2 linked regions of the Homo sapiens genome follow. The protein of the gene in region 2 interacts with the protein of the main gene of each other region in a pairwise test. Each region holds a gene or a part of one and is shown on either strand. Other genes may lie near its edges. The genes, in order: SPTBN1 and SH3BP5.

The links.
Region 1: the proteins of SH3BP5 (region 2) and SPTBN1 interact in a two-hybrid assay, tested with the Homo sapiens proteins (2 studies listed by BioGRID and IntAct).

What each region holds. Positions count from the first base shown.
Region 1 is NC_000002.12:54,459,030-54,462,946, reverse strand, and holds part of SPTBN1 (spectrin beta chain, non-erythrocytic 1), read right to left. Parts: intron 3,610-3,917; exon of another isoform or gene 3,539-3,609; intron 1-3,538. UniProt on the Homo sapiens protein: Fodrin, which seems to be involved in secretion, interacts with calmodulin in a calcium-dependent manner and is thus candidate for the calcium-dependent movement of the cytoskeleton at the membrane.
Region 2 is NC_000003.12:15,330,838-15,334,754, forward strand, and holds the start of SH3BP5 (SH3 domain-binding protein 5), read right to left. Parts: upstream 1,750-3,917; 5' UTR 1,572-1,749; coding exon 1,434-1,571; intron 17-1,433; exon of another isoform or gene 1-16. UniProt on the Homo sapiens protein: Functions as a guanine nucleotide exchange factor (GEF) with specificity for RAB11A and RAB25. Inhibits the auto- and transphosphorylation activity of BTK. Plays a negative regulatory role in BTK-related cytoplasmic signaling in B-cells.

The sequences.
Region 1 (3,917 bases), on a different chromosome or scaffold from region 2:
AATCGAGTGGTAGTTACTGCCTAGAACACCATGTCGAGAATATGACTGAGACTATCTCAGCTCAGTGGAAAAAGAGTACCATTACTGATTTTCGATGTCTGCCAGGAACAGAAGCGAGTGATGGCATGTGCCATGTTTTAACCCCCACTATGATTTCATCTAAGTCTTCCATTTTATAAAATTAGATCTGAGACCGGAGGGTTAAAGGTTTGCCAAAGTCACACATCCAGCCTGTTAAAGGTATTTTACCTTCTGTGTATAGTACATAAAATATATTCCATATACTAGAGTATACAGTCCTTTCATTCAGGAACTAATTCTTATTCAACTTTAAGCCAGTCCACAAAACCATAACAACTTCAAGTCCTGGCAAGATAATGTATCCAATAATTATTCATTAAATAAAAAACAATATTACAAAGTAATCTCAGAGTAGCAGTAAAGGAAGATCATTAATACTATAAATGCTTAATGGTCAAAAGAACTGTGTACAAATAAATGTAATTACATTACTTTCAAGAACCAGAACCTAAACTGATAAGGGTTTCTAGTAAGTGGTCTCTTCAGACTGTATTAATCAATATATAAATGCCATTGGTAATGCAGCCTTTTAAAATACAAAAGTTAGAATAAGCCATTTAATAGCTCTCCTGACATAAAAAGGTTTAGGTAGTTTTTGCAAAGCATACCAAAAGGGATCAGTGGGTCATAGTGCTTAGGCAGTCCCAACAGAAAGGAAACAACTGTTATCAACTAAATACGTACTATGTGCCTGGAACTGTACACTGCTGTATCATAACTAAGAGAAACTAATATTATTTTGATTTTTCCAATGAGGAAACTGTGGTCTTGAGTAACTAACTAGCTCAAGGCCAGTACCTAGTGGTAGCCATAAGGCTAGTATACAACACCATTAGGATTTGGGCCCACAACCTGTTTGACTCCAAAACGAATGCTCTTTCCAAACAAAGAAAAACTTTTCTGAAATAAGAAAATTACCCTCACAAACTTTAAAGGACAAAATACTGATTATGACTCTGCTAAATTACAAATAACCGATCATCAAAAGAAATCACAAATTCGAGTTAAGAAAAAAAACACAAGCTGAGAAGTAATTGTCGCAAGACATGTAATCCACAAAGGATTAGTAGTAATCTACATACAGAACTACAAATTAATAAGATAAATGGGTAAAAGACTGAACAGGTACTTCACAAAACGAAGAACCCAAATGGTTAATAATGTAAACAGACATTCAAACTCAATAATCAGAGAAATTGTAAATAAAAATCACAGTGAGATAATGTTTCACTGGACAAGATTTTCAAGCCTGGTATGTGAAGCACTGGCAAGGCTTTGGAACTGTAACACTTATGGCTAGTGGGAACACGATCAACATAATCGCTTTGTAAAAAACAGTTCTACATTCTCTACTAAGGCTGATGATGCATATGCCCTGTGAGCCAGAAAATTTCATTCCCTAGAGACAGCAAATGGGTGTGTGTGCCTCCACATATGTACCAAGAGCCGTGTACAAAAACCACTCACAGCAACCCTTTCACAATAGCAAAAAAACCTGGAATCAATCCAAATCTCCATCTAGAGTACAATGAATAAATAAATCACGTTAGAATACTATACAGCAGGTGAAACTGAATGAAATACAGCCATGAAATGGATAAACCTTGGGAATAGAATCTTAATCTAAATATGTGAGTCAGAAGAATACATAAAGTATAATTTTGTTGATATAAAGTTCAAAATCATACACAATCAAGATTTTTTAAAAAGGATAAACCATAGAGAAGGGAATGATATGCACAAAATCAAGGATATGGGTTGTTTCAGATGGGATGATGGAGGTGGGCTCTGAATGTATAAGGCTCTTCCTGAACTAGCCGGTGGCTGCCTGAGTGTCCCTTGGTTTATGATTTTTATTTTTTTGAGACAGAGTCTCGCTCTTGTCACCCAGGTTGGAATGCAGTGGCGCGATCTCGGCTCACTGCAACCTCTGCCTCCCCAGTTCAACTGATTCTGTTGCCTCAGCCTCCCGAGTAGCTGGGAATTACAGATGCCTGCCACCATGCCCAGATAATTTTTGTATTTTTAGTAGAGATGGGGTTTCACCATGTTGGCCAGGCTGGTCTTGAACTCCTGACCTCAAGTGATCCGCCCCCACTCGGCATCCCAAAGTGCTGGGATTACAGGCGTGAGCCACTGCACCCAGCTGGTTTACGATTCTTTAACATATATTTTAGGAACATTATTTTGTACCTACCAATTAGTTGATTCAAAAAAGAACTCTAAGAAAAGACTGGACGAGAGGGCAGGACATTGACTATATCAGATGACAGACATCAAGATGCCAGAGCAGAGGGAGCAGAGAGGACCCTTTGCTCAGGGGTTAGCTTCCGAGGCTCCAGCTCTGATGTCTCAAAACCAATGCCTTTTTCTTCCAGAGGGGAAAAAGACTGTTTTTCAACTTTAGAGGTGTTTTACAAAACAACCTAAAACACTGATTAATCTAAATAAACCATGGTATATAGGACTCTTCCACCAAGAATTAAAGAACAGCTTTATAAAATAATTTTGTATTAAACAAATAATTTACAGTGAGAGCCTCACTTTTGTCACCACCATCAAGGAAAAAAATGTGCTGATACTTCAGCAAAAGAAAGGAAAATTCAAGAAGGAAACTTTTGATATTGAGGTCCCTTTGCTGAAGGAACAGAATAGAGTTTCTTCATTTAATGTGCATACAACTCACTTAAAGGTCTTGTTAAAATGTTGATTCCGATTGGCTGAGTTCAGAGTGGGGCCTAAGAATCTGCATTTGCAACAAGCTTCCAGGCGATTCTAATGTTGAAGGTCCGTGAACCTCACTATGATAGCAAAGGACATTATGAAAATGCCTTCTCCAGAGATGTTTAAAAATAGAAACACAGGTATATCTAATTGGTGTAATTTCCTTTAACCACTGAGTAGAAAAAAATAGATGATGTTATTCCCACACAATAAAAATTTAAATATAATTACAAGTGCTACCGGAAAAATCAGAGTACTAAACTAGGTCTTTTGCAAAGAAAAGATGCCCTGAGAAAAAGCAAAGACTGAAAATTTACAAGAAAAACCCATGAGATGCTTTACTCACTTCCACAGACCTACAAAGTTCACTCTTCTAACAGGGGTAGTTAGCCCCTTCCTTCTGGAAGAATGGTTTGCATTTCCAATAATGTAGTGAAAGAAACTACGGCTGCCATTAAATAAAGCCCAATTATAATGAAGATACTAGTTACGATGCAACATAATTAAAGGAGCATCATGTCATTGCACGTAAAAAAAATTAGGCTTTAAAATGTTCTATAAGAATATGCTATTAAAAAGAAAAGCTTAAAATTATTTCGACAAAATCCACACTGAATGATTTCCACTAATCATGTCTATGTTAGCAGTAGTAAAATCCTTCCACGTCAAAATAGTACTTCCACATGTAAAGTCATACATTCAAACATCAAGACAAAGCAACCACTCTACAAACCCTTCCAGGAAACTCTGCCAATGCCAAGCCTCTGCTCAGGATGTGTCACAAGTAGAGGGAGGTCTTCTCATTTGCTCTGCAACATCACAGATAGTTGTTACTAGTCTTGCCCAAGAGAAGTTCTTCACAGAAAACCTCAACTGTGGGAGACGACCTAGTGACAGCAGTTCCTTCACTGCCCAATACTTCTCCTCTCAGATGAAGGTTTTGGTCACTCCAGTAATGACAGAGTTACAAAGAGCTTAACCCAACAGAATTCTGCACCTGCTGTGTAAGTCAGAACAGCTAAACCTCCTGTGACATCAACACAGGATATTTCTTACAACAAAGTAAATCCAAAACGTTTGGATGATCCATGGGAACAACATTCATAAAAATC
Region 2 (3,917 bases):
TTCAGGTAAACCCCACCTGTTACAAATGGTTTAATGGCCTAATCAAAACAGTACCATCTGCCTTGAGCAAGAACTTTGCTTAGAAAACAATAAAAGACAATAAGCAAGGCCAAGCCAAAAATATAAACCCAGTGAAATCATCAAGGGCAGAATTCTGGTATTAACTCACCAGAATTATTTTTCTGTAAAGGGTGAAAATCTTTTCACACTGCCAATTATTCAACCTACTTAGCTGGACGTTTTAAACTAGCTTTAATCCCATTCCTTTCAATAAACATTTACAAACTGACATTTTGTAAAAAAAGTATCCAACATGAACTTAACTCATCATTACTATGCAAACAAAGGATCTTGCTAACATAATCCCATACCAGTAACACACGATTTATTCCAAACCAATTACTTTAATTAATAGCATTCCTAATGCAAGGATTTTTTTTCCACCTGATCTTTATCTTGCTAAGCTGACAAAACAATTCATTTAAACCCCAACCACTGAGTTAAGTGAGCTTTTAAATTGATCTGTGCACTAAAAAACCAATTAGGTATCCAGAAATTACAGAGCATGCTTAAAAGCAATTTTTTTAAAAAAATGATTTATTGAAAAGGTAGAAAAAAAACGGGCCTTAGAAAGGGATTTGCTCTGCTTTTTGCTTAGGGGTGAAGAGGTGAAACTGTCACTCCTAGATCTCGGCTTGGAAATTGTTTTTTAATCATCTCTCTTGGAAATGGAGGCACAGCCAGCCAGCCCAATCCCCTCGCCGCCTCCACGCGTCAGCTTTGCGCATCAGTTGTCCCCGATTTCTTTTCATGCCCAACCTCACAACAAGGAAAAGCAGGGTTTTAAGCAATTTCAAGCCAGGCAGAACGTTGAGCCAGTGATGACAATAAGCCGCTCAGTTCGCTAACAATCAATCAGAGAAGGAAAACGGCTCAGGCCGGGCACCTTGGCAAGTGAGGACTCTGCACCCGGGGCACCGGTGCCAGCCCGCGCTGCAGGGCAACGCCCACCCGCCCACGGTGCCCGGCGCCCACGCGGGCGACACCTCCTCGCAGAGCCTGGACGCCGTGCCATGCCCGCGGTGCCGCGGCCGGGCAGGGGTACCCCCGAGGATACCATGGCGCCCCCGCCCCCTTTTTCCCTTTGTTGCACATCCACCCGAACCACCAGGCACGCTGCACCGACCCCGATCCTGCTACGGGTCGGCGGGGGACTCCCCGCAATAGAGTCAGGCCGCATCCACGCGGGCACTGTAGCCTCCTCATTGTGGAGACGATGAAACGGAGCATACAGACCGTCTCCTGCCACCCTATGTGGCCGCCAGTCCCCGGACCACAGTTACTGGGGGCTGCGAAGTGGCTGTACGCGTAGACACCGACCTCCGTAGCAGCCCTCGCGAAGCCCGGATGCGGGGCGACCCCGCGCGCCCTACCTGGATCCGGGGATCCACCTCTTCTTCCTCCTCCAGCCCCTGCTCCATCCCCTCTTCCTCCTCCTCCTCCTCGTCCCGGGCAGGCGGCAGGATTTCGGCTGGCTCCTCCGAGCGGCTCCGCTTCAGTGCCGCGTCCATGCAGGCAGCCGGCACGCGCGCCGCGCAGTGGGCTCCGGAGCGCCCCGGGGGTCGCGGCTGCCACAGGCTGGGCTGGAGCCGCCTCGCCACAGCCGGGCACGGTCGGGGAGCCGCCGGGGCCGACACCCGGGAGACGCAGCTCGCCGATGCGGATACCTCCGGCCGCGGCGGAGCAGAGGAAATGGGCGCGGCCGCCCCCTTTCTGCCGCGGCAGTCAGCGCAGCGCCCGCTCCGCCCCCGTCCCGCCCCGGCCTCGCGTTCCGCCGCCAGTCCCAGCTATCCAGGTCTCCGTCGCAAAACCCCAGCTCCCTCCACATCTCCAAGGTGGCAAAATAGGACAGCCCCCACCCCCTTGTAACTTAGCAGCTCGGATATATCTCAACTACGTAACGCAAGCCTCCCGCTTTCGGGAGTCCCCTCCTCCAGCCCTCCTCCGAGGCTCGTTGTTTGTGTGGTAGGGAGGCGTGGGTGTTTTCACACTGAAGTCGCCTTCTGAAGCCTACGCTCAGTGACCCTGGCCCTCAGGACCAAGACTTGCCGAAACCCTATACCCAAAGCACACTCATCCTCTTGAGCGAACCTTGGGAATGGCGGAGGTTCCGTGCACTGATGCATTGCCGAAGGCTGCGGCCTCTCTGGGCGAGCCCCATACCGAAACACAGAGGTGCGGCGGTCCTACCTGAATAGCCAGGAGCATGGAGAATGCATTGAGCTGGGATTTAAGGAGGTGGCAAGTGTAACCCCTGTTGATGGGCACACTCTGGCCAAGAATTTATGAATTAGTGAGACTTTCTGCCCACCATCAACAAGTAGGGAGACAGAGTTGGCCTGGCAGACACAGCATCCGAAAAGGCCAAACTGAAGAGGCACGTGTGTGTGCTTTTATGAAATGTCAGGGCCACTGTGATGTCAGGGGAACGCAAAGGATGACCTTGGCAAAGCAGATGAGCACATGGCTGCTCACGTCTCCTTGCCTTGAGAAATGCAGAACGTGCACATGTCCTACACGGAGGCCTGTAGCCCATCGGCTCTGAGTTTGGAGGACAAATTTGCTTGAGAAAGGAGCTTCTTTCTGAGAACCTATCATCAAAGCCACCTTACAAAACCTGGGTCTGGCACAACGTGGTGGCTCGTATCTGTAATCCCAGCTCTTTGAGATGCCAGGACACAAGGATCACTTGAGGCCAGGAGTTCAACACCAGCCTGGACAATACAGCCAGACCCCTTCTCAAATGAATAAATAGTCCTGCTCCTGGTGGTTTTATCAGAAACTAGGCTAGAGGGTTACTCCTTGGGCAAGGCACCACCCCATACACGCTGGCACTGTAGTCCACTGTCAAAGGAAATTTGTCCTGTCTCCTGGAGGTAGTGCCATGGTTTGTTTCTAAAAAGGTCAGACCTGTTCATTGCTCTTTAAATCAAGGATGAGTCAGCAATTCTGTGAGAGGTGCTTCAAAGCTCCTTGCTAAAGACATAGTTGCTTTTGGTTTTCCAATGATAGATGAAGCCAGGAACAAGATAGCCATAGGGGTCACTTTGGAACACAGGAGCCACCAACCTTCTCTGGTGGCTTGGAATTGAGCCTCCAACTTTGCAGGTACATCCTAGCTCTGAATGAACTGAGAGACAGAGTTTGAAATAAACAGAACTCTGGGGTCAGCCCTGACTATGATAAATGCTTCTCAGCTAGCAGAACCCTATCCTCTCCATTCTAAATGGCAAACTCCAAACTACATTCCTGCTTAAGCTTAGGTCAAGAGCAAAATACATCTATGAGACATAGGCCAACTGCTCAAGAACATCAGTTCAGACTTTTGTTGTCTTATTTTTTGGAGATCTGGGCCAGCTATAGTGTTAATCCTAATAGTCTTTCTAAAGATAAAATGAGAAAAATAAATAAACCACAGGCAGTACTATATACAGTCAACCCTCCATAGCCTCTCAGGTTCCACATGTGTAAATTCAACTAACCACAGATAGAAAATATTTGGGGGAAAAAAACACAACAATTAAAAAAATGCATATTTAAAAATACATGGCCAGGAGTGGTGGCTAACACCTGTAATCCTAGCATTTTGGGAGGCTGAGGCAAGGAGGATCACTGGAGGCCGGGAGTTCCAGACCAGCCTGGGCAACAAAGCGAGACTGCCTTGCTCTCTAGAAAAAAAAAAAATACAGTATATGACAACTATGTACATATTTGCATTGTATTAGGTATTGCAGGTAAGAAATCTAGAGCTGACTTAAAGTATACAGGAGGGGCTGCTCATGGTGGTTCATGCCTGTAATCTCAATACTTTGGAAAGCCAAGGTGGGTGGGTTGCTTGAGCTCAGGAGTTCAAGACC